Linked DNA regions of Homo sapiens: regions 1 and 3 are each linked to region 2. The links come from fine-mapping of genetic effects on gene expression. Tissue or cell type: monocytes after R848. Region 2 holds a variant in brackets; each other region holds the start of a gene. All regions are shown on one strand. Distances are between the middles of the regions.

Region 1 (8,109 bases), 120 kb before region 2:
ATTGCTGCTTTTTATTTCTTTGTGAGGATTCGAGTTACTGTTTAGCATCCTTTCATCTCACTTGTAGGGCAGTTCTGCCAGCACAGAGCTAGGATTAGAACCAAGGTCTTCTAACTCCAAGTTAAAGGCTATTTCTACCACATCTCAGGGGCATGAGAGCCTGTGAGTTCCAGGACTATCTTTCCATGAGGAGCTCAATTTCATCATTCTGGATATTGGTCCCGCCAGAATTTCTCATCACTCTTATGAATCCTTTTCACCCTTCATTGCCACAGAAGTTTTAATGAGCAAGCGAGTCGTACTGTTTTCTTGGTTTCTTTTCCGGTATCATATGACTACAGGTGAATGAGATATGGTTAGCAGCAAGCCAGATGTTAAGAAGCAGTGATCTCATTGTTCAATTCCCACCTATAACTAACCTGCACATTGTGCACATGTACCCTAAAACTTAAAGTACAATTAAAAAAAAAAAAGAAGCAGTGAGGCAGGGGAGAGGTGGGAATTGAAACCCACAGTTATGATGTGAGTTCAGGTAGCCAAAGACAAATGGATAATCTAATTATGAATCTAGTTGTGAGAAAAGCAGTATTTGCTAAACTCAGTAGTGAGATTAGGAACTGAGTCATCAGATCAGAGAGAAGGCAGACCAAAGTGAGCCAAATATAAGCAAGTAAAAATCTCTGAGCATTATAATTCAAAGAGATCTGTGTGTTGGATGACTAGGGCTAGTTCCAGAAATGGCGCATAAAAATTAGTTGCCTTTTGTTCAATGCTTGCAGCTGTAGGTGGAAGTGTCAGGGCTACGTGTTCACCTGGTAGAAAGTTCTAAACTGGGCATGATCTAGGAAGGGGAAGGAAGCCTCTAGGATCCTTCCTCTGAGCCATATCCTTCCCAATGTATTAAATCATTATTTATTTAATTTTGAATAATATATGCAGGGCTTCTCAAGAAGAATGGACATCTTGAAGTTCCAGCTATAATTTTAAAAAGAAGAAAACTCCCTATAATTTAAGTGTTTAATCCTATTAGTATATTTCAATTACAGCATGTATGAACTCATTTGGAGAGGACATAAAAAATCTAAGTTTATGGTCTTTATGAGTATGAGACCCATGGTTAATGGGCCTTCTGGTAAAATTCCCTCTCCTCAGCCATACCCTGCAATAGCTCAGATGTCAGGGACCTATTCAAAACGTATTGGTTTTATAAAACTGATACATGCTTATCACAAAAAGGGCTACGGAAGAGTATATAGAAGAAAGTTAAAAAACAAAACCAACAAGCAAAACCCCCACTATCAACTACCCAGAAATAATTGTCATAACATTTGGCAACATCATCCTAGTTCCTAGTGATCTCTCTATGTATGTACCCATATTCACACATAGACATAATTCTACAAAAATGGGACCTACTGTAAATGCTTTTTTTAAAAAACAAAAAGCATTAAATTTGTCTTTACTTGAACTAAACTGGAGAAAAGCTAGTGAAATTGGTAGAATTGCTCAATCTCAGATTAATAAGTTTCTTCACATCAAGCAATTTTATTTTCCTAGAAGATAACTCTAAAATTTCAAAAGATTTTTTTACTTAAAAAAAAAAAACCCAATCACCAAAATGCTTCAATTCAAGCAGTATCTATGGATCTGCCTGCACTGAAGGTAAGCAACATGGCACCATCTTTCTAACCTACCCCTACAACACCATATTTCTGTTAAGTGTATTATTATTTTTTCATTATCAAGATTCATAAATTTACTCTGTCCTGTAGCCATAATTCTCAGCTTTGCTTTTTCTTTAAGCCATTGAATGTGTTTAATGACCAACCTTCCACTTCCGGGTTTTTAATTTTTCACTTAACAATTGGCTTGCTGGGTTTTGTTGTTGGATGGCTTTTTCAAAAATAATTCATGAGCACTAAATTTCATGAATTGCTGCTTATTTTAAAGTTTGTTTCCTGCCTTTATGTTTCAAGCACAATTAGATGGACACAAAGTTACCCTTTCCTTTCCTCAGAACTTTGTAAGCAGAGCTCCATTGTCTTCTGGCATTGAATGCTGCTGCTGAGGTTTTGGAGGTCAGGCTCATCTGCACCTCCCTCACAGCCCTTACACTTAGAGGAGCTTTTCTTTTTCTACATGGATGTCCTTAAAGCTTTTAGTTTATTTCAAGATATGTGTAAGCATTAAATATTCTTTATCAGATTTTCCTGGGAAATTTTTTCTAGTGCTTTGTGTTCTCTTTTTGTTATTAAATCTTTAAGTACATTTTCTTTCACTATTTGCTTTTTAAAATTTAAGAATACCCATTATTTTTATATTAGATCGCCTTTGTCTAGATTCCATATTAGTAGTCATCTGTCTAGTAATTTTCATCTTTTTTCCATTTCATATTTTAATGTTTGCTCAAGGCTGTCTTTTATCAACTCAATGGTTTTTTGTCATACATATTTTACTTTTGATTACTTCTGTGGTCTTTAGCTATGAAAAGACTGATGAGCCTCCTGGACTGGCCTCTCAATACGGTGGATATTATCACCATGGGTTCATAGTTTTTGGCTTTGCTCATTTTTTTTCTTCCTTAGATCAGCCTCCTTGCTCCATTTCTTGAATGAGTCAACTCATCTCTTACCTCTTCAACAGTGGCAGAAAATTTGGATAGATGTTTGTAATCCATTACTGATTTCTTGGAAACTTAAGGAATGGGAGAAGTTGCAAGATAGTAGATGAACTGGGGAAGAGAATTCCAAGAAGGAACAGCATGTGACGGATACCTGGAGTAGAAAAAAAATAGTGGAGCTTTTGAGGCAATGAGAAAAGGATTATGTGGGTCAGGAAGCACAAGCTTGAAAGACAGCAGTGCTAGGTAAAGTGAGGGAGGCCAGATAATATAAAAGGCATTTTAGACTATGAAGTTTGGATTACATCCTTAGAGTACTGGGCTGGGGCAAGGTAGAGGAAGTGGTGGTTACTAAAGAACTTTAAACAAAAAAGGACAAACATTAATGTTTTTTAAAAAAATGATAGCTATGGTTGTAGGGTAGAATGAAGAATAGAAAGTAGAAGATCAGTCAAGAAACCCTTAACACCTACTCACAGATGGTGGTTGGTTAGCAAAGGTGTTAAAAACAGGAGGAAGAAACATAGAACTTTTTTAAATGTAGGAAACTGGATGTATTAAATATATGTTTGCATCCATACCAGTTTGACTTATAATAGAGAAAACATGAAAGGAATTCAAATGTTTATCAATAGGTGAATTTAAACAAATTATGATATTTCCATGCAATGGAATACTACTCAGTCACAAAAGGAATGAACTAATAATATACAAAACATAGATGAATCTGAAAATAATTATGGTAAGTGAAAGAAGAATGAAAAGAAGAGTTTATACTGTAAGATTCTATTTATATAAAATTCTAGAAAATACACACTAAGCTGTCATGATGGAAAGCATATCAGTGGCTAGTTTGGGGAGTAGGGAGAGGTGGGCCAGAGGGATTACAAAGGAGCATTAGGAAACTTTCGGGGATGATGGAGATGTTTATTATCTTGATTATGGTGGTAGTTTTGAATGTATACTTGTGTCAAAGCTTATCAAATAATGTACTACAATTATGTACAGTTTATTTCAGTTATACATGAATAAAGCTGTTTTACTATTAAAATGTAATTTTGAGGTAGTTTAATAGCATTTAGTGAAGAGAACGAGGGATAGGAAGACAAAAAAGATTATTATAAGGTTTCTGGAATGAGATAATTTCTGTGAAGATATTTAAAGCCCTGGCAATGGATGAGACCACCAAGAGTAGGAATGGAAGAAGGTCTAGGACTGAGTGTGGAGGACAGCTGATATTTACAGGCTGTGTGGAGAAGGAGCAGAGGTCTTACTTCTTTGTGGGGTGTGCCATTGTTGATTTATCTCTTATTGAGAGAGATCATGTTTATTGCTAATATTTTTCATTTCTGAGCTGCAACGAATAACCTTATACATTTTGGAAGTGTGTGTACATGTAATCTGTAAGATAAATTTTTAGATGTAGAATTTTCTGGATCAGAGGGTAGGAGTAGTTGTGATTTTGGTAAATAATGCTAAATTCCTCTTCATAGAAGTTGTACCTATTACATTCCCATCAGCAATATGAAAATGCCTCTTTCCCCACAACCTCATCAGCACAGAAGATTATCAAATTTTTGACCTTTCCTAATTTCACAAGTGAAAATTGGTAGCTCAGTATTATTTTAATTTGCATTCTTTAGCTATGAGTGAGATTAAACATGTTTTATTGGTTAAGAGTCATTGGGAGGATTGTTGTACCTTTAAAAAAATTGAGTTATTGATTTTTTTTAACACGTTATACATGCTTTCTTTATATAAGGAAAAGTAGCCCTTTGCTTCCAATATATCTTGCATATATATTTTCCCAGTTTGCTGTTTGTCTTTGAAATTTGTTTATGGTAGCTTCGGCCTTGTAGAAATGGTTGATTTTCGTATTGTCAAATTTATAAATCTTTTTGTTTATGGTTCTTGAGTTTTGTGTCATAGAGAGGTTTTTCCAACTCTCGAAGAATTCTCTCGAGATTTCTTAGAACTGATTTATAATTTCATTATTTACTCTGAAATCTTTGATTCAATTGTATATTTTCCTGGTGCAAGTGGGAGGGGTTAAGACAATTTTAGTTTTATTTTTAGATGGCTACCTGGTTTCCCAAAATCATTTATAAAATAACTGTCTTCTCACCATTGACTGGAAGATTTCACCTTTATCTTTGTTAAGTAAAAGAGAAGGCTTTATAAATGAGGGTTTTAGAATATATTTGAATGCTGACACTTAATCCCAGTGCAACACTGTTGGGAGTTGCGGCCTTTGGGGTATTTAGGTCATAAGGGCTCCACCTTCATGAATGGATTAATGTTGTTATAAAAGCCCTTTATGAAGGAGTTTGGTCCTCTGTCCCTTCTGTCTTCTGCCATGTGAGGACACAGTGTTTCTCTTCTTTGGATGACACAGTGTTCAAAATGCCATTGTGGAAGCCAAGAGCAGCCCTCACCAGATGCTGGTGCCTTGATCTTGGACTTCTCAGCCTTCAGAATGGTAAGAAATAGATTTCTGTTCTTTATAAGTTCTGTTCTTTATAGGTCTGTGCTATTATACTAGCACAAAATGGACTAAGACAATGAACATGTATGCAGATATGTTTAAATTTCATGGTGGAAAGAAAGATGACTTCTATTTTCCTGTTGTAGTAGAGGGTGTTGATGGATACAAGGCAGCAAAGTCCATTTCTGCTATAACAAAACACCATAGACTGATGGCGTAAACAATCAATATTTGTTGCTCACAGTTCAGAAGGCTGGAAGTGCAAGATCAAGCTGTCAGCAGATTTGGTGTCTGGTGAGAACCTGCTTCCTTGTTCATAGACAGCTGTCTGCTTCCTGTGTCTTCACCTGGCAGGAGGGTTAAGGGAACTCGCGGGAGCCTCTTTCATAAGGGCATGAATCTCATTCTTGAGGGCTCCACACTTACGACCTAATCACCCCCTAAAGTCCCCATCTCTTAATTCTATCACCCGGGGGGTCAGGATCTCAGCATTCAAATTTAAGTTGGGGGACACGAACATTCAGATCATGGCATAAACCAACCGTTCTAATTGCATTATTTTCTCTAGAAATGATCGGCTGCCTCTGTGTGGGCAAAGAAAAGGCCTATCTACCTTGGAAACAAAGCTTTGGAAAACTCATTGCTGGTCTAAAGAAACAGACAATTGAGGCCAGGCGCTGTGGCTCATGCCTATGCTCCCAGCACTTTGGGGAGCCGAGGTGAGAGGATCTCTTGAGCCCAGGAGTTCAAGACCAGCTTGGGTAACATAGTGAGACCCCACGTCTACCAAAAAAACATTAATAAATTAGCCAGGCATGGTGGCTTGTGTCTGTGGTCACAGCTACTCAGGAGGCTGAGGTGGGAGGACTGCTTGAGCCTGGGAGGTCGAGGATACTGTGAACCATGATCGCACCACTGTGCTCCACCCTAGTCAACAGAGCAAAGCCCCATTTAAAAAAAAAAAAGGAAAAAGAAAAGAAAAAGAAAAAATGAAATACACAATTGGACAGTAAAAGAGCCTCTAAAGGGGAAGCAAACAAGAGGTTAATAGGGCATTGATGACTAAGAACCCATTTTGCAATATTCTCTGGAGCTGGCCTTGCATTTAGAATGAATGTGAACCTGAAACTCTTCAGGATTCAGGGCAGGGGATGGCATATGATCTATTTGCCTACACTTTGCTTCAGCTGACAGCAGCCGGCAGGTCATGATCCCTGTTTTCTCCCATGATTTGTTGTCTCAGCTGCCAGATGACAGTGCTATTGGGCTGCTCCTAACTATGATCACTCCTTAGCCTGTCCTCGGGTAGCTCTTGCTTCCAGATTTTATTAACCCACACATCCCAGCTGGGTTTCTGGAAACCCCCACCCACCCACCCTGTGAACTGCTGACGTTGCTGATGACTGTGGGCAGTGAGAGCAGCAAGTGGGAAACAATCTTATGAAAGAGAGAAGAATGTGAGTCAGCTGGATAGATGGTATTATGTGAAAGAAAGAAGATGCATTGGGAAAGTAGGATAAGCCTCATTCTTTTAATAAATACTCATCAAAAGCTGATTACAGAATAGTACTGGATTATAAGATTGAAGTTCCTCCTAAGCCTTTCCCATAAAGATAGGAAGCATGATTTCATCTTTCATTTCATCTTTGAAGATATTGGTTACTGGTCTTCATATGAGCTAAGTGCTCATTAAATGGTTGCTGAATGGATTAATAAAGGAGGGACTATTTTAGTGTCTTTGCTTGTGCCATTCTCTCCCTGGAACACTTTCCCTTTTCTAATATAACTCCAGAAATTCCACTTTCGTCTGAAGGCTCCCCCCTCCTCCATGAAGCCTTATGTGACTAACTTCTGCCTAAAGTTAGCTTCCCCTTTCTAAAGTCTATGGTACAGATAGTTGAATCTATGTCAATAACACATTCTGTCCAATATTTTGCTTCCATATTCCTCTCTCCCACTGTGGATCTTTTTAATGCTGTGTAGATACAGAAATATACATTCTTACTCTCCAACAAGTGTGTGCATTTCCTAAATGCAGGGATGACATCTTTGACTTCTTTCCGAATGTCCATGGTTCCTGATAGCGTACTGGGCACAAAGTACTGCCCTCGAAGTACTTATTTATTTGACTACCTATTATCTCTATCTAAAGCAAATATTGTTAGAAAAAGGCTGAGGCTTATTGTTAACCCATACAGGACAGAGAATTGTAATGATCTTTCTTCCTAATCCTTAGCTTAATCCTCCTAATCCTGTAGCTTAAACCCTGAAAATGTTTGCATCCTTGATCTATAAGGAATGTTATAGCATGTGACTCTATTAAGTGTGGAAAATTGAAAGGCAAATTAAAATATTTTTATTTGGCAGCATCATGAAACTGTTGAGGTCTATAGACATAATCTTCATATGAATGCTAAACGTAGTACTTACTATCAATAGATGTTCAAGTCCAATGTTACTGAGCTGTGACTGTAGCAATTCGCTAATCTTCCTTTGAACATACACTATTTACTTTTTAAAGTCTTAGTTAAAAAATCAATTTTTTTCTCTCTAGTGAATTTTATGATGCTTTTGTTTTATATTATTCAACCTAAAACTTCTGAGATTTTTAAAAGGCTAACAGCAGGTTGTGAATGTTCAAATAGACAAAATTACAAAGTACACATTCATTACTGACTTAGCTCAGCTTCCTGAGATAATCAGAAGTTAAATTTCATCAGCTCTCTCTACCCGAAGGCTATGGCACTACCACAAAGATAAATTCTTTTTTTTTGAGATGGAGTCTCGCTCTGTCTCCCAGGCTGGAGTGCACTGGCGTGATCTCAGCTCACTGCAAGCTCCGCCTCCTGGGTTCACGCCATTCTCCTGCCTCAGCCTCCCCAGTAGCTGGGACTATTAGGTGTCTGCCACCACTCCCAGTTAATTTTTTGTATTTTTAGTAGAGATGGTGTTTCACCTTGTTAGCCAGGATGGTCTCGATCTCCTGACCTTGTGATCCGCCCGC
Region 2 (8,109 bases):
TGAACCTAGTAAGAGTTTAACACTGTAATTGGAGTTACTCTGTCCTAGATCCCGGCTCACACTCACATAAGGGACCTCCCTCACCCTATCCTACCCCCCCGAATTCTGAACCAGCTCCCCCAGCGGGGGTCCCAGAGCTTTGGACAATCCCAAAAAGGGCGCCGGCGCTGCTGCACCACAGGGCAGTTATGCCCAATTTAAACCTTGATCTCTCAGTGTCTTTAGCCTTTTCTGTTACAAAGAAAAAACAAAAATCCCATCACGGATCAACTGAAGTCATATTTAACAAGAGTTACTCCCCTCTGACAATGCTTTGCCTGCATAGGTCCACTACTGCTCGATTTCATTCTGTAGACTGCACCCAGGGCCAGGTTTCGACATCTGGAAGTGAGTTTTCAGCAGACAGCTCCATCAGGGCTGTAACGATAGCTGAAGGGGAAAGAAGGAGCTCATATCTTGCAGAATCAGCTCTTCCCTAGACCATGACCAAAGGCCGATTCCCAGTAGTGTCTTCCGCGGAAAAACGCGAGACCCGCTCTCCAGGAACCCATCTCTGCCCAGCGGCGCCCTGGCACCGCAACCTCGCCTCGCAGCCCCGCGGACCAACACAGGCCCCGCCCCCAGAGCCGTCCGGAAAACCTGGACCGTGGAGATCCGCATGGGGGGACGCCGTGCAGTCGTGAGGCCAAGCTGAGCATGCTCGGAGAGCCGGCCTGTCGCGGGAGGAAGCGGTGTGGGCCGCGGGCGGCGCACGCCGCGCAGTTGTTGTGATACAGCCCCCGCCACGTGACTGCGCGGGCCCGCCTCCCCCGCGCGCGGCACCGCCTCCCCGTGACTCAGCGCTTTGTGCGGGCTCCGAGCCGGAGGTCAATCTGGGGGAGGCTTCTTAGGGCAAAGTCTCAGTCCATCACTCCTGACCTCTGGGCTGCTGCTGCTGCTAGGATTGCCGCAGTCGTTTCAGACACGATGGGTTTCGGGCCTCCAAGGACCAAAAAATACATCATTTTCTCTGTGGTCACGCCATTCCCAGTTTCCCTTGAGTCAGCGGCTTCGCGAGATCAAATAAGGAAAACAGAGAGAGTGCCCAGGGGACTCTGAGGAAGGCACTTCTAGGTTATCTGCCCCTGCCTTTACCGCTCTCTTTGGCTTGAGTATCCCTTGACCTTGGTGGTCTGTCGCTTGGGTCCCAGTATATCACATTCTATGCCAGGCACTTTGAGCTGGTATCCGTAAAACAGTACTAATCTTTGCCACATTTTATAAGTGAGGCAACTGAGATCCAGTAATACTAAGTAACAGGTAGTGGCTAAGCTGGGGTTTGAACTCCAGTGATATTTCAAAGCTGTCTACTACACCACTTAGCCTGGGTGAAGCTGGTGGCTGCCTTCAGTGTGATTCTTCCTGGGACTTGATGCCAACCTTCATTACATCCTTTCTTCTCCCTTGACACACCCTTTCCCCAAAACCCGCGGATCTGCCTGTGAAGTCCTTAAGCTTTTTGTCTGTTAAATTTCTTTCTTTTTTTTTTTTTTTTGAGATGGAGTCTCGCTCTGTCGCCCAGGCTGGAGTGCAGTGGCGGGATCTCGGCTCACTGCAAGCTCCGCCTCCCGGGTTCACGCCATTCTCCTGCCTCAGCCTCCCAAGTAGCTGGGACTACAGGCGCCCGCCACTATGCCCGGCTAATTTTTTGTATTTTTAGTAGAGACGGGGTTTTACCGTTTTAGCCGGGATGGTCTCGATCTCCTGACCTCGTGATCCGCCCGCCTCGGCCTCCCAATGTTAAATTTCTTAATTGGTGAAAACAAATAGTTAGTTATTTCTTAACTTCAGTGTACATGTTAAACAACAAAAGATACAGAAGGAATTTTCTCCCTACAATTGAATTGTACTTGGAATTTGACTTGATCTTATTCAAGAAGATCCCTGGGGGCTTTATGATGGAAGAGCAGTAGCCAAAAGACTGGGGCTTTGGCCCCATCTCAGAGGGCTACCTGCTGGGTCAATCTAAGCAAAGTTGTGATAATCATTGGAGAGTCCTTTCCTCTCATCTGTACAAATGAGAGTCTGGAGGAGATAAAGTTTCCCTTCCAGCCTAAACATTTTCTGATGTTATTACTAAAATTAGTTGAAAGAGTTCAAATCTTTTTGTATCGTGTACTATTTGTAATACATGCTGCTGAGGTGTGCTATTGTCATTGTCAAAAAAGCAAGGAAACTCTTTTGACCTTTTCCAAGCCAATTTTTAGTTTACATGGATTTTTGAAAAATATAAATGTGCTTGTTTTCATGTAGAGTTACAAAAGGTCTGTGAAGTTCAAGTGAAGAACTTTTTTAACATGGAGAAGTTTGAGTGTGCTAAAGAAGATGGGTAGGCATCAAAAGGGGGCAAGATTGAAGATGTGGGAACAAGAAAGGATATTTTCAGAAGCAAAATGTCTCAGGAGACCTGACTTGTTGGGATCCAGAACACATGGGAAGTGGTGAGCTTTTTTTCCTAGAAAAATCTCATTGTCTTCTTATAGAAGATAAAGACGCCATGATAATGTGTTGGGACAGGGCGAGTGATATCTGAGTCCTGTAGACTCACTCTTCTCACTGGAGAATAATTAAAGATAACTTTTTATTATGGACATTTCCAATAAAGCACAAAAGTTGAGAGAACATAGTATAATGGCTCTTCATGTACTTTTTTCTTTTTTTTTTTGAGACGGGAGTCTTGCTCTGTCACCCAGGCTGGAGTGCAGTGGCATGATCTTGGCTCACTGCAACCTCCACCTCCTGGGTTCAAGCAATTCTCCTGCCTCAGCCTCCCGAGTAGCTGGGACTACAGGCGCCTGCCACCACGCCGGGCTAATTTTTGTATTTTCAGTAGAGACGGGGTTTCACCGTTAGCCAGGGTGGTCTTGAACTCCTGACGTCAGGTAATCTGCCAGCCTTGGCCTCCCAAAGTGCTGGGATTACATGTGTGAGCCACTGTGCCTGGCCCTAGTTTTTGTATTTTTGGTAGAGATGGGGTTTTGCCATATTGGCCAGGTTGATCTCAAACTCCTGACCTCAGGTGATCCGCCTGCCTTGGCCTCCCAAAGTGCTGGGATTACAGGCATGAGCCATGGTGCCCACCTCTTCATGTACTTATTATTCATCTTTGTATGTTACAGTTACTTACCTCCTCCCATTAGTTTAAAGGAAATCTCACTCAAGTCTGATCTCAGGACCTGAGCTCTAAGTGAAGGTTGAAGAAAGAAAGAGGAATGTAGAAGATGAGGTTTGAGCAGCTGATATGGGAGGTGATCTAGAAAGATGGAAAATAATGAGCAATACCCTAATATCCGTAAACCAAAAATAAAATTCTAAGCCCTCCAACTACCTGAATGGACCACTCCTCTAGGCCAAGAACATTCTAAAGTAAACCTGAGGCCAGGCGCAGTGACTCACACCTGTAATCCCACCACTTTGGGAGGCCAAGGCAGGCAGATCACCTGGGGTCAGGAGTTCAAGACCAGCCTGGCCAACACAGCGAAACCCCGTCTCTACTTAAAATACAAAAATTAGCCAGGTGTGGTGGCATGCACCAGTAATCCCAGCTACTTGGGAGGCTGAGGTGGGAGAATCACTTGAACAGGGAGGCGGAGGTTGCAATGAACCAAAATCACGCCACTGCATTCCAGACTGGGTGACAGAGTGAGACTCCGTCTCAAAAAAAATAAAAAATAAATTAAAAAAAAGTAAACCTGAAATATGAAACACTACTTCAGGCCATGATGGAATAGGTGATCAGACATGCCTAATTATAACATCCTCCCTTTGGATTTCAGGCACAGCTGACCAGCATTAACATTGAAACAGACCTGAAGACTGACTAAACAGGTTCTTTGGAACAATAAAATACCAACATGATGGATAATAGGCCCTGAAGAAATCAAGTATTTTATCTTAAAATACAGTTCTTTGACATATTTTGAAATGGCCCTGCAAAGCTGTTTCTTGTGGGGAAAATCTACATCCTGTAGAGAATCCCCTTCCCTTTCCAGGTCTTTTTCCTGATCCAGAAGAGAATTAACGGAGTCTGGCACCTTTTTAAGTCTCCCAACAAACATTTACAGTCTATTCTCTTTGAAGCCTGCTACCTGGAGGCTTCATCTGTATAATAAGAACCTTGGTCTCCACAACTCCTTAGTTAACCCAGACACTCCCTTCTATCGATTCTAGGTCCTTAGGTAAACTCAACCAATTGCCATTCAGAAAACCTTTGAATCCACCTATTCAAATATTAGCGGGGACCTGGAACTGACCCTCTGATACGGTTTGGCTGCGTCCCCACCCAAATCTCAACTTGAATTGTATCTCCCAGAATTCCCACCTGTTTTGAGAGGGACCCACGAGGAGGTAGTTGAATCATGGGGGCTGGTCTTTCCTGTGCTATTCTCACGATAGTGAATAAGTCTCACAAGATCTGATGGGTTTATCAG[A/G]GGTTTCCCCTTTTGCTTCTTCCTCATTTTCTCTTGCTACCACGCTGTAAGAAGTGCCTTTCACCTCCCACCGTGATTCTAAGGCCCTCCCAGCCATGTGGAACTGTAAGTCCAGTTAAACCTCTTTTTTTTTTCCAGTCTCAGTTATGTTTTTATCAGCAGTGTGAAGATGGACTAATACAGTAAATTGGTACCAGTAGAGTGGTGTGTTGCTGAAAAGATACCTGAAAAGGTAGAATCAACATTGGAACTGGGTAACAGGCAGAGGTTGGAACAGTTTGGAGGGCTCAGAAGAAGACAGGAAAATGTGGGAAAGTTTGGAGCTTCCTAGAGACTTGTTGAATGGCTTTGCCCAACATGCTGACATGTTGACAATAATGACAGCTGACAATAATGTCCATGCTGAGGTGGTCTCAGATGGAGATGAGAAACTTGTTGGGAACTGGAGTAAAAGTGACTCTTGTTACGTTTTAGCAAAGAGACTGGTGGCATCGTGCCCCTGCCCTAGAGATTTGTGGAACTTTGAACTTGAGAAAGATGATTTAGGATACCTGGTGGAAGAAATTTCTAAGCAGCAAAGCATTCAATAAGTGACTTGGGTACTGTTAAAGTTTTATAAGGGAAGCAGATCATAAAAGTTTGGAAAATTTGCAGGTTGACTATGTGATAGAAAAGAAAAAACCATCTTCTGGGGAGAAATTCAAGCTGGTGTCAGAAATTTGCATAAGTAGCAAGGAGCCTAATGTTAATCCCCGAGACCATGGGGAAAATGTCTCCAGGCCATGTCAGAGACCTTCATGGCAGCCCCTTCCACCATAGGCCTGGAGGCCCAGGAGAAAAAAGTGGTTTTGTGGGCCAGGCCCAGGGTCTCCGTGCTGTGTGCAGCCCAGGGACTTGGTGCCCTGTGTCCCAGTCACTCCAGCCATGATTGAAAGGGGCCAACATACAGCTCAGGCTGTGGCTTCAGAGGGTGGAAGCCCCAAGCCTTGGCAGCTTCCATGTGGTGTTGAGCCTATAGGTGCACAGAAATCAAGAATTGAGGTTTGGTAACCTCCACCTAGATTTCAGATGTATGAAAACGCCTGGATGCCCAGGCAAAAGTTTGCTGCACAGGCAGGGGCTTCATGGAATACCTCTGCTAGGGCAGAGCAGAAGGGAAATGTGGAGTTTAGAGCCCCCACACAGAGTCCCTAATGGAGCACTGCCTAGTGGAGCTGTGAGAAGAGGGCCACCGTCCTCCAGATCCCAGGATGGTAGATCCACTGACAGCTTGCACCATGCACCTGGAAAAGCCGCAGACACTCAATGCCAGCCTGTGAAAACAGCTGGGAGGGAGGCTGTACCCTGCAAAGCCACCGGGGCAGAGCTGCCCAAGACCATGGGAACCCACCTCTTCCATCAGCATGACCTGAATGTGAGACCTGGAGTCAAAGGATATCATTTTGGAACTTTAAAATTTGACTGCTCCACTGGATTTCGGACTTGCATGGGCCCTGTAACCCCTTTGTTTTGGCTAATTTCTCCCATTTGGAATGGCTGTATTTACCCAATACCTGTACCCCCATTTTATCTAGGAAGTAACTAGCTTGCTTTCGGTTTTACAGGCTCATAAGCAGAAGGGACTTGCCTCGTCTCAGATGAGACTTTGGACTGTGGACTTTTGGGTTAATTCTGAAATGAGTTAAGACTTTGGGGGACTGTTGGGAAGGCATGATTAGTTTTGAAATGTGAGGACATGAGATTTGGAGGGGCTAGGGGTGGAATGACATGTTTTGGCTGTGTCCCCACCCAAATCTCAACTTGAATTGTATCTTCCAAAATTCACACCTGTTTTGGGAGGGACCCAGGGGGAAGTAATTGAATCATGCTGGCTGGTCTTTCCCATGCTATTCTCGTGATGGTGAATAAGTCTCATGAGATGTGATGGGTTTATCAGGGGTTTCTGCTTTTGCTTCCTCCTCGTTTTCTTTGGCTGCCACCATGTAAGAAGTGCCTTTCACCTCCCACCATGATTCTGAGGCCTCCCTAGCCATGTGAAACTGTAAGTTCAATTAAATCTCTTTTTCTTCCCAGTCTCAGGTATATGTTTATCAGCAGCGTGAAAATGGACTAATACAGCCCCCTCACCCCGAGTTGTCTCATGTTTCCCAAGTTGTCTCACATTTTCAGGGCATGTTTCTGGACTGAACCACCATCTTTCATGTACTGATGTCTTACATCCACCTAAAATGTATGATACCAAACTATATGTAGCCCGACCACCTTGGGCACATGTTCTCAGGATCACCTGGGGTTGTGTCACAGCCCATGACCACTCATATTTGGCTCAAAATAAATGTCTTCAACTATTTTATAGAGTTTGACTCTTTTTGTTGACATATCTTACTGGAAACCAATTTCTGTCATTCTAAATTTGGAGATGGTAGATCTTATCCAGTTTTTTCACTCCAAATTATCCAGCTATTGTTCCAAATTATGGGGCTTTGTATTTAAAAACAAAACCCAAAGCCAGAAAAACATGCTTGTCGCATATAGTATAAATGATTTGACAATGGCTGTGCATGGGTGATTAATATTGCTAAAATAGGCCAAGTGTCAAAATGTGAGTAAGATTGCTAAGGCATGTATTTACCTTTTTAAAGATATCTGATCTTAGTCTCTGCCTTTTTTCTTCCATTTCATTCACCTTAGTTCACATAAATATATGTAAAGTTCATTCTAGATTAGATAACACCAAATAATTGAACTTTGGCGCACTATAACCTATCATTCATGGATGATGAGATGTGAAAAAGTGTTAGCCATAATTACATCTATGTAGAAAGGCAATTGTACTGAATAATTGAGCAATTTTGCTTCGATAAGACCAGTTCCTAAAAGCAAAAAAAAAAAAAAAAATATATTGTACTTCCCGAAAGTATTTTTTCTCATACAATACCTCCTGCCACTTATTTTAGTACTTAAACTTTAATGTAGTAAGTACCTTAAGGAAAAAATTCAACTCACCTAAAAACTTATCTTACAATACACAGGACATCCCACAACAAGAATTGTCCTACTCTAAATGTCAGTAGTATCAAGTTTGAGACACTCCTCTATATGTTGTGAAAGGATAATAAATCTCGAGACCTCCAAAGCACTAAGCCAAGGGAAAAATCAAGCTGGAAACGATGTCAGGCAAACCTGCCTGCATCTCATTTTATTCCTAAATAAAATAGCTACAAAGATAAAAGGCTACATACCTCCCTCACAATTTGCCTACAAGGAATTTCCTTGTGGACAAGGGATAGACAGAAATCAAAGTCATCCTTCTGAGGCTCATCTGAGACAAATGCATATCTGATTGCTTCCTCTGCCATATTGTTTATATAAAAATGCAGATTCACTGAGCCAGACTAAATTGTGTATTCGGTGAAAGGCTGGTCAAAGACTCAAAGGAATCCCCCTCTGCTCCCCCCAACCCTGTGTGCCTTACTGGACTGAACCAAGGTACATCTTACACATAATGATTGATATCTCCTGTCTCCCTAAAACAAATAAAAGCAAGCTGTACCCCAACTACCCTGGGCACAAGTCATCAGGACCTCCTGAGACTGTGTCACAGGTATGTCCTTAACCTTGGCAAAATAAACTTTCTAAA
Region 3 (8,109 bases), 22 kb after region 2:
TATGGGAAGAAGTTGGGCAAATGATTCATCTGGAAAAGATCAAGGAGGCTGATTCATTTAATTCAGGGCTTATTTATGCAAAGCTGTTTTTGAATGTTTGCAGATCTGGATCAAATAATTATGGCATTAATTGAGACATTAGTATGTGTTCATCATTGGGTTCAAATTCATAAGCATCCTGTTATTTAATTCTCACTACAGCCATATGAGGTGAACAATAATATCCTCATTTTGCCATTGAAAAAAATAAATTTTGATGACTTAAGCATTTTTTTTAAAGTTTACATATCTAGTAATTGGCTCAGGGCTCTCCTGCAAAGTTAGCTGTTGGCTCTGAGAATACTGGGGTCAGTGACCTGGGGTCAGTGATCTTACCTGCACCCCGTCCCTATTTACTGTAGCATTTGCAGAAGATGCTGTGTTCCTTCTCACCTCCTGTGATGGTGGCATCATCCTGGATGGCAGCTCTCCCTCTAGTTAGGTCAGTCTATCTCTTGCTTCTCAGTGATGCTCTAGTTTCAGCAGTCAGTGAATACTCTGCAGGGGTTAATGGAGGAGCTGGGAAGTGTAGGGGTTCAATAAAAGGAAAGATGCAGAAAAAGGAGTAAAGTAAGGGGACTGGGGAAATATGAATAGATTTAATGAATATTTATTAAGTGCCTACTAGGTATCTGGTACCGTGCTAGGTACTGGGACAAAATAACAAGCAAAAGGCAGGATATTTCTCATGGAGCTTATAGCTTAGTTGGGTGGGAGGAGACTAGTGTTAAATGAAGAGCCACATAAATGAATGCACTGTTCCCGGAATGAACCAAGGATCAGGCTGCTTATTCTCACGGCCCAATAACGAGATGCAGATGAACTGGGAAAGAAGAGAGTTTACTTCTGTAACCGGGTATAGAGAGAAGGCCGGGAAAATATCAGCAGACCAACTCAAAATTACAGTTTTGCAGAGCTTATATACCTTCTAAGCTACATGTCTACGTGTAAGTGTGCATTCATCGGAAGACATAAGTTATTAATTTCTTCTAACCTATAGCTAAAGTCTGTGGCCTAAAGACCTTCCTGTGGAGCCTCAGTAAATTTACTTAATCTAGATGGGTCCAGGTGCCAAAGGTAATTACCCTTATCTTGTCTCCTTGCTAAATCATGGAGGTTTAGGGAGTTCCTTCAGACCCCAGTAAAACTTGTTTAATACTAAACGGATCTTGTTAAGAATTCCTTTGTTATCTTGTCATGCTTCAAGGCCCAGGAAAAGTCTAGGCAAAACTCTCAGTGGGCTTTTGTTACCTTCCAGCCTTTGTATAAGGACACTGGCTCTATTACGTTTGTTGTTGTTGTTGTTTGTTTGTTTGTTTGTTTGTTTTTGAGAGGAAGTCTTGCTCTGTCGCCCAGGCTGGAGTGCAGTGGCATGATCTTGGCTCACTGCAATCTCTGCCCACTGCAACCTCCGCCTTCAGGGTCAAGTGATTCTCCCGCCTGGGCCTCCAGAGTAGCTGGGATTACAGGCACCTGCCACCATGCCCGGCTAATTTTTGTATTTTTGATAGAGATGGGGTTTTACCATGTTGGCCAGGCTGGTCTCGAACTCCTGACCTGAAGTGATCCACCCGCTTCAGCCTCCCAAAGTTGTGGGATTACAAGCATGAGCCGCTGCGTCCGGCCTTCTATCAACTTATTTATTTATTTATTTATTTATTTATTTTTTGAGGCAGAGTCTCGCTCTGTCCCCCAGGCTGGAGTGCAACGGGCGGGATCTCGGCTCAATGCAAGCTCCGCCTCCTGGGTTCACGCCATTCTCCTGCCTCAGCCTCCCGAATTGCTGGGACTACAGGCGCCCGCCATCATGCCTGGCTAATTTTTTTTTTTTTATTTTTTAGTAGAGACGGGGTTTCACCCTTATAGCCAGGATGGTCTCGATCTTCTGAGCTCGTGATCCGCCTGCCTCGGCCTCGCAATGTTTTGGGATTACAGGTGTGAGCCCGCACCCGGCCTCTATCAACTTTTTAATATTTAACTTAACACTCAGTCAGTGCTGAAACAGTTGTCATGGAGGCCTGCCTGTTCAGCTGTTAGTGAGACCCGGCCTGCTACAGCACAATTTAAAATTGTGAGGTTCCATGACGGTGAAAGAGGGCTATGACAAAGAATAAGGGGAAGAAGATATAGTTTAGATAACAGGGGTGTGTTTTTCAGAAAAGGCCTCTCTGAGGAAATCGTGTTTAAAATGACATGTTTATAAACTGTGTTTGAATACTGAAATACTTGTATATTGATAATTCTAAAATAATACAACTATTAGCCTTTGAAATTTGTAGTTAATAGTAGGAAATACATTTATTTTTATTACTTATGCACAGTTTTCTTACCATTTTTAAAAGTAAATTGTAGATATAAGTGAATACTTCTATATATGCTTTAGTTATAAAATTTAAGGAACTGCTATTTGATTATCTTCATATCACCTGGAATAAGCCATGAGCATTACTGATTTTTACAGATAAAATATCTTTTGTTTTGTGAAGGATTTTTCTGTATTTCCCAATTAACTGTTTCTATATATACAATAAAAATTATCTTCTCACCATTCAGTGTGTCTGTTTTAAGGTTAATATTGTACCAAATATGGACTAATCCTCATTTCTAAAGCTTATGTAACCACATAGTGTTTTATGTCCAATAAAATGTTATTTATGTACTCGGTTTACAACATATCTAATTTTTCATAGAGGAAATGGACATTTTGGCAACGTTTAATGGTGACAAAATGAAACAGAATCTTTTTTTTTAGAAAAATAAAATATGTACTTTCTACCTTTTGGATATGAATTTTCACTTGTTTTCTACTGACAGTTACTTCTCAAATAGTGTACATTACAAATAAAGTTATCATAATTAGTGGGAAAGAATATTGATCAAAATATTTTATATTCCATCTTTACCTCTGTTCAAAAACTTCACGTAAAATTGTATATGTACATTTCAAAATGTAAAAGTAATGTTTGTAAGGATCTTCACAATTATCAAAGCATTAAATGTACCATTTATTTTTTATTTACTGAATAAAAGGGAAGTTTATTAAATGGTACAAATATCACATTTTCTCTGTTTTGATACTTGTTTGTTACAGTTTATAGTTTATGCTATCTGAATCCAGGATTTTTTTTTTTTTTTTAATAGAGATGGGGTCTCCTTATGTTTCCTGGGTTGGTTTCCAACTCCTGGCCTCAAGTGATCCTCCTGAATAGTTGGTATTATCGGCATGCATCACACCAACTGGCCCTTTTTAAATTATTGTTATTATTTTAATTTTATTTTTTAAACTAAAAAAATTTTTTTGAACTAAAAGTAGATCTGCCATTTGATCCAGCAATCCCACTAGTAGGTGGGAAAAGAAGTCATTATATGAAAAAGATACTTGCACATGCATGTTTATAGCAGCACAATTTGCAATTGCAAAAAATATGGAACCAACCCAAATGCCCATCAATCAACAAGTGGATTAAGAAAATGGAATACTACTCAGCCATAAAAAGGAACGAAATAATGGCATTCGCAGCAGCCTGGATGGAATTGGAGACTATTATTCTAAGTGAAGTAACTCAGGAATGGAAAACCAAACACCGTATGTTCTCACTTATAAGTGGGAGCTAAGCAATGAGGACACAAAGGCATAAGAATGATATAATGGACTTTGGGGACTTGGAGGAAAGGGTGGGATGGGGTGGGAGGGATAAAAGACTACACAATGGGTACAGTGCACACTGCTTGGATGACGGGTGCATCAAAATCTCAGAAATCACCACTAAAGAACTTATTAATGTAACCAACCACCACCTATTCCCCAAAAACCTACTGAAATTTGTAAAAGAATCAAATACAATACAATAAAATATGTAAAATTAAAAAAATTTTTAAATAGGGATGGGGTCTCACTATGTTGCCCAGGCTGGTCTCAAACTCCTGGTCTCAAGCGATCCTCCAACCTCAGCCTCCCGAAGTGCTGGGATTACAGGCGTGAGCCACCATGGCCGGCCAGATGCTGACTGGAGTTTAAATTCAGGATTTCTTTTATGATCATTGTTTATTATTAATGTTAGGAGTAAATTTTTTTTTCAAAAAAGTCTTATTTAAATCGATGGCACAACTTACAATTAATGGCATTTTAGAATTGGCATCATATGGCATGATTTATATTTTGTCAGCAGCAAGCCTTGATTTCATCCACCTGGAGTAGAAAATGAAATACTATTAAATTTTAATGTCCAGCTTTCCATGGTTCTTCTCCCCAGGCTGTGATCCCTTGAACTCTCCCTCATCCTCCACTTTCTCACGATTCTCGTTCGGTATTTCTGGGAGTCCTGGACGGCGTGCCTTACACCAGGTTTATAACCCGCTCCTCCCCTGGAGGTACCTGCTGCTAGCTCTCCCGCTCTGTTCCTGGCCACGCCCACTGCACTTCCGGTGGCCTGAAGGAGGATCACATGAGACATCCCGGGGTCTGGCTGCATGCAGTCCCCAGAGGCTGTCCCCTCAGCACTGTTTAGTAGTCGGGTTCTCGGCGACTTCAGTCTAGTCCCCAAGGCTTGCTCTCCTTCGTCCAGGAGCAGCTCTGCTCAAAGCCAAAGGGTCTCCAGGTGTCTCAGGGAAGCTTCTGTCACAAACTTACTGCAACCTTTGCTTTCCAGCCTTCCACACACACACAAGTCTCCATGGAATCACAGGGCAGTTGCAACTCCCCTTTCAACAGGAAAACTGCAACAGCCTCCCTTCTACCCAAAAGGCATCACGTCATTTAAAAGAAGGATGAGGCAGGGCAGTCAGTAATAACAATGGCAACCACAATAGGTGTCACTCCATTTTGATGTTAGGAAACTCAACAGAGAAAATCAGAGAGGTTGAATGAGTTGCTCAAGGTCACAGACCTAAGAAAACCATGCTCAGGATTTGAACCAAGGACTGCCTCTCTCCAAACACACCTATGCCATCTCCCATAAAAGGACTGGATTTTTTTCTGTCCCATGGCTGTTTTTACCTCTTGCTGAGCCTATCAGCTGAGGTACGTAGGGTAAGGTGTGGGGAAGCACAAACTCCTCCATGTGCAATGGGTTGAAACACCTATTCCACATTACTGCTGTTGTTGCAGCAGGGATAAAGGGGGGGGTCGTGACCTACCAAAAGGCCCCTGAATTTATTTTTCAGCTTTTAGCTTATATTTTTGTTTCTATTGTACCATTTGATGCATGCACTTAAGTGCCTTTAAAAAGGAAACTCCAAACAGCTGAGAAAGAAACGTTATAAAATTGATGACATCTTTTTTTTTTTTTTTTTTTTTTTTTTTGAGACAGAGTCTTGCTCTGTCGCCCAGGCTGGAGTGCAGTGGCATGGTCTTGGGCCACTGCAATCTCCCTCTCCTGGCCTCAAGCAATTCTCCTGCCTCAGCCTCCTGAGTAGCTGGGACTACAGCCACCTGCCACCACACCCAGCTAAGTTTTGTATTTTTAGTAGAGACGGGGTTTCACCATGTTGGCCAGGCTGGTCTCAAACTCCTGAACTCAGGTAATCTGCCCGCCTCAGCCTCCCAAAGTGCTGGGATTACAGGCATGAGCCACCGCACCCGGCTTGATGACATCTTTTATGAAATCCTTTTTATGTTTTCAAGTGAATTTGGGTATTTTGTTTTATGTTTTCAAGTGAATTTGGTCAGTTTTCTCCCTTGAAAGAACCAATGCAATGCAATTTATTCATTCAGACTTTCTTTTCCTTTCTCTTTCCCTCCCTTCCTTCTCTCTGTCTTTCCCCCATTTATCATCTAGGAGACACCTGCATTACAGTGTTTGAAGCAGTTCTAAGCATTATGGGATACAGAGATGAATATAACTGATACCTGTCCTAGGATATTACACTGTAAAGAACTGGATCTTTAGAGCAGAAGGCAAATACAGAAAAATTCTAATACCAATTATAAAAGGATAAATACTTAAGCAAATCTGATAAGTGTGATGTTTTTTGTTTTGTACATAGATTACTCTCCACTGAGAGAGAAGAGAGCAGGGCACTAGGGAAAGCATCTTGAGGAGATGGTGTACGGGGTAGATTTGGAAGGATGGGTAAGAAGTTGTTATGCAGATATGGAGCATGGGCAGAGTTTAGGGCAGTAGAACCATCAGAAACTGTATGATGGGATCAATGAAGAATAGGCTATACATGGTGAAATGAATGGAATGCTTACATCCCCCCTAAATTCATATGTTGAAATCCTAACCCTTAAACTGATGGTATTAGGAGGTGAGGGCTTTAGCATGTGATTAGGTCATGAAGGTAAAGCACTTGTAATTGGAATCAGTGCCTTTACAACAGGGACCCCAGAGAGCTAGCTAAACCCTTCCATGATGCAAGAACACAGCAAGAAGGCACCCTCTATGAACCAGAAAGTGGGCCTTCACCGGACATGGAATCTGCTGTGCCTTGATCTTGGACTTCCTAGCCTGTAGAAATGTCATAAATAAATTTCTGTTGTTTATAAGCTACCCAGGTTATGGTATTTTATTATAACAGCCTGAAATAGACTAAGACACATGGTCAACAATAGATATTTAATTTTGATGGGATGTTAGTTTTTCAAGGTGGGTGAAAAAATAAGCTTAAAAAGGTAGGCCAAGACCAAATTTAGGAGACCTTAAATCCTTAAATGCCAGCCTTTGGACTGACATAGGACTTTTTTTTTTAGAGTCTCATTCTGTCACCCAGGCTGGAGTGTAGTGCCGTGATCTTGGCTCACTGCAACCTCCGCCTCCCAGGTTCAAGTGATTCTTGTGCCTCAGTCTCCTGAGTAGCTGGGATTACAGGCATGGTGTGCACCACCACGCCTGGCTCATTTTTCTGTTTTTAGTAGAGACAGGGTTTCGTTATTTTAGCCAGGCTGGTCTCCAACTCCTAGACTCGAGTGATCTGCCCACCTTAGCCTCCCAAAGTGTTGGAATTACAGTCATGAGCCACTGCACGTGGCCTGTTTTGTTTTTCCTGTTTTCATTTTCCAGTTTTCCTGTTTGTTGAAGATTGGTCCAATTATACTCCTTAGTTTATTTCATACTTTGGCCAATGGTCTGTGTTAGGCTCCTCCTTCTCCATCATTCATTCATTTTTATTTTCTTTTATTTCTGCCTTTGATTTCCATCCCCATCACCCACCAATGGCAGCAATTCTTGGGCACTTGATATTTATGCTTTTCTTTGTATGTGTCTTTATTATATAAATACTATTGTATGCATGCTTTAAAAATATTTTTCTGCCAATCGCGGTGGATCATGCCCAGCACTTTGGGAGGCTGAGGCAGGCAGATCACTTGAGGTCAGGAGTTTGAGACCAGCCTGGCCAACACAGTGAAACCCTGTCTCTACTAAAAATATGCAAATTAGGCCAGGTGCGATGGCTCCGCCTGTAATCCCAGCACTTTGGGAGGCCAAGGCGGGCGGATCATGAGGTCAGGAGATCGAGACCATCCTGGCTAACATGGTGAAACCCCGTCTCTACTAAAAAAAAAAAAATTAGCCAGGCGTGGTGGCGGGTGCCTGTAGTCCCAGCTACTCGGGAGGCTGAGGCAGGAGAATGGCGTGAACCCGGGAGGTGGAGCTTGCAGTGAGCCGAGATCGTGCCACTGCACTCCAGCCTGGGCGACAGAGTGATACTCCATCTCAAAACAACAACAACAACAACAACAACAACAACAAAAAAAACGAAAATTAGCCAGGCGTGGTGGCACGCCTAGAGTCCCAGCTACTCAGGAGGCTGAGGCAGGAGAATCGCATGAACCCAAGAGGCAGAGGTTGCAGTGGGCTGAGGTCGCCTCACTGCCCTCCAGCCTGGGCAACAGAGAAACAGACTCCGTCTAAAAAAAAGAATAATAAAAAGTAAAAATAAAAAATGGAAAATCTCAAACACAAAAAAGTAGAATATTATAATGAACTCTCAATTATCTACCATCCAATTGTAATAATGATAAATTATTGCCAAATCTTGGTTTATCTCTATCCCCATCCACCCATTCCTTCCCCTCAGGTTATTTTGAGGAAAATCACAGATATTATATTATTTCATCTGTAAATATTT

Which allele goes with the higher level. Alleles are on the strand shown, and positions count from the first base shown. SD is a standard deviation of normalised expression in the study named.
As copies of G replace A in region 2, the expression in monocytes after R848 of the gene that starts at base 4,954 in region 1 goes up (large effect, 0.91 SD a copy in Quach 2016).
With allele G in place of A in region 2, the expression in monocytes after R848 of the gene that starts at base 4,228 in region 3 is higher (moderate effect, 0.60 SD a copy in Quach 2016).

Evidence for each region. PIP is the estimated chance that this variant, and not a neighbour inherited with it, causes the effect.
Region 1: GCLC-AS1 starts here. The variant in region 2 is fine-mapped to the expression of GCLC-AS1 in monocytes after R848 (Quach 2016, PIP 0.95). The same link has a PIP of 0.9 or more in monocytes, monocytes after LPS and monocytes after Pam3CSK4.
Region 3: it holds the start of KILH, and the variant in region 2 is fine-mapped to the expression of KILH in monocytes after R848 (Quach 2016, PIP 0.95).

What each region holds. Positions count from the first base shown.
Region 1 is chr6:53,426,541-53,434,649 of GRCh38, forward strand. GCLC-AS1 (GCLC antisense RNA 1) reads left to right here and starts at 4,954. Exons shown (of 5, transcript NR_183318.1): 1 at 4,954-5,099.
Region 2 is chr6:53,547,417-53,555,525 of GRCh38, forward strand. No RefSeq gene overlaps it. Among named protein-coding and RNA genes, the nearest start is that of GCLC, 6.4 kb to the left of the region's middle. RefSeq lists a silencer at 726-955. The variant A/G (reference allele first, on the strand shown) is at 4,470.
Region 3 is chr6:53,569,048-53,577,156 of GRCh38, forward strand. It overlaps KILH (KRT19 interacting long noncoding RNA in hepatocellular carcinoma), which reads right to left and starts at 4,228. Exons shown (of 4, transcript NR_110840.1): 1 at 4,153-4,228; 2 at 376-558. RefSeq lists an enhancer at 3,987-4,487.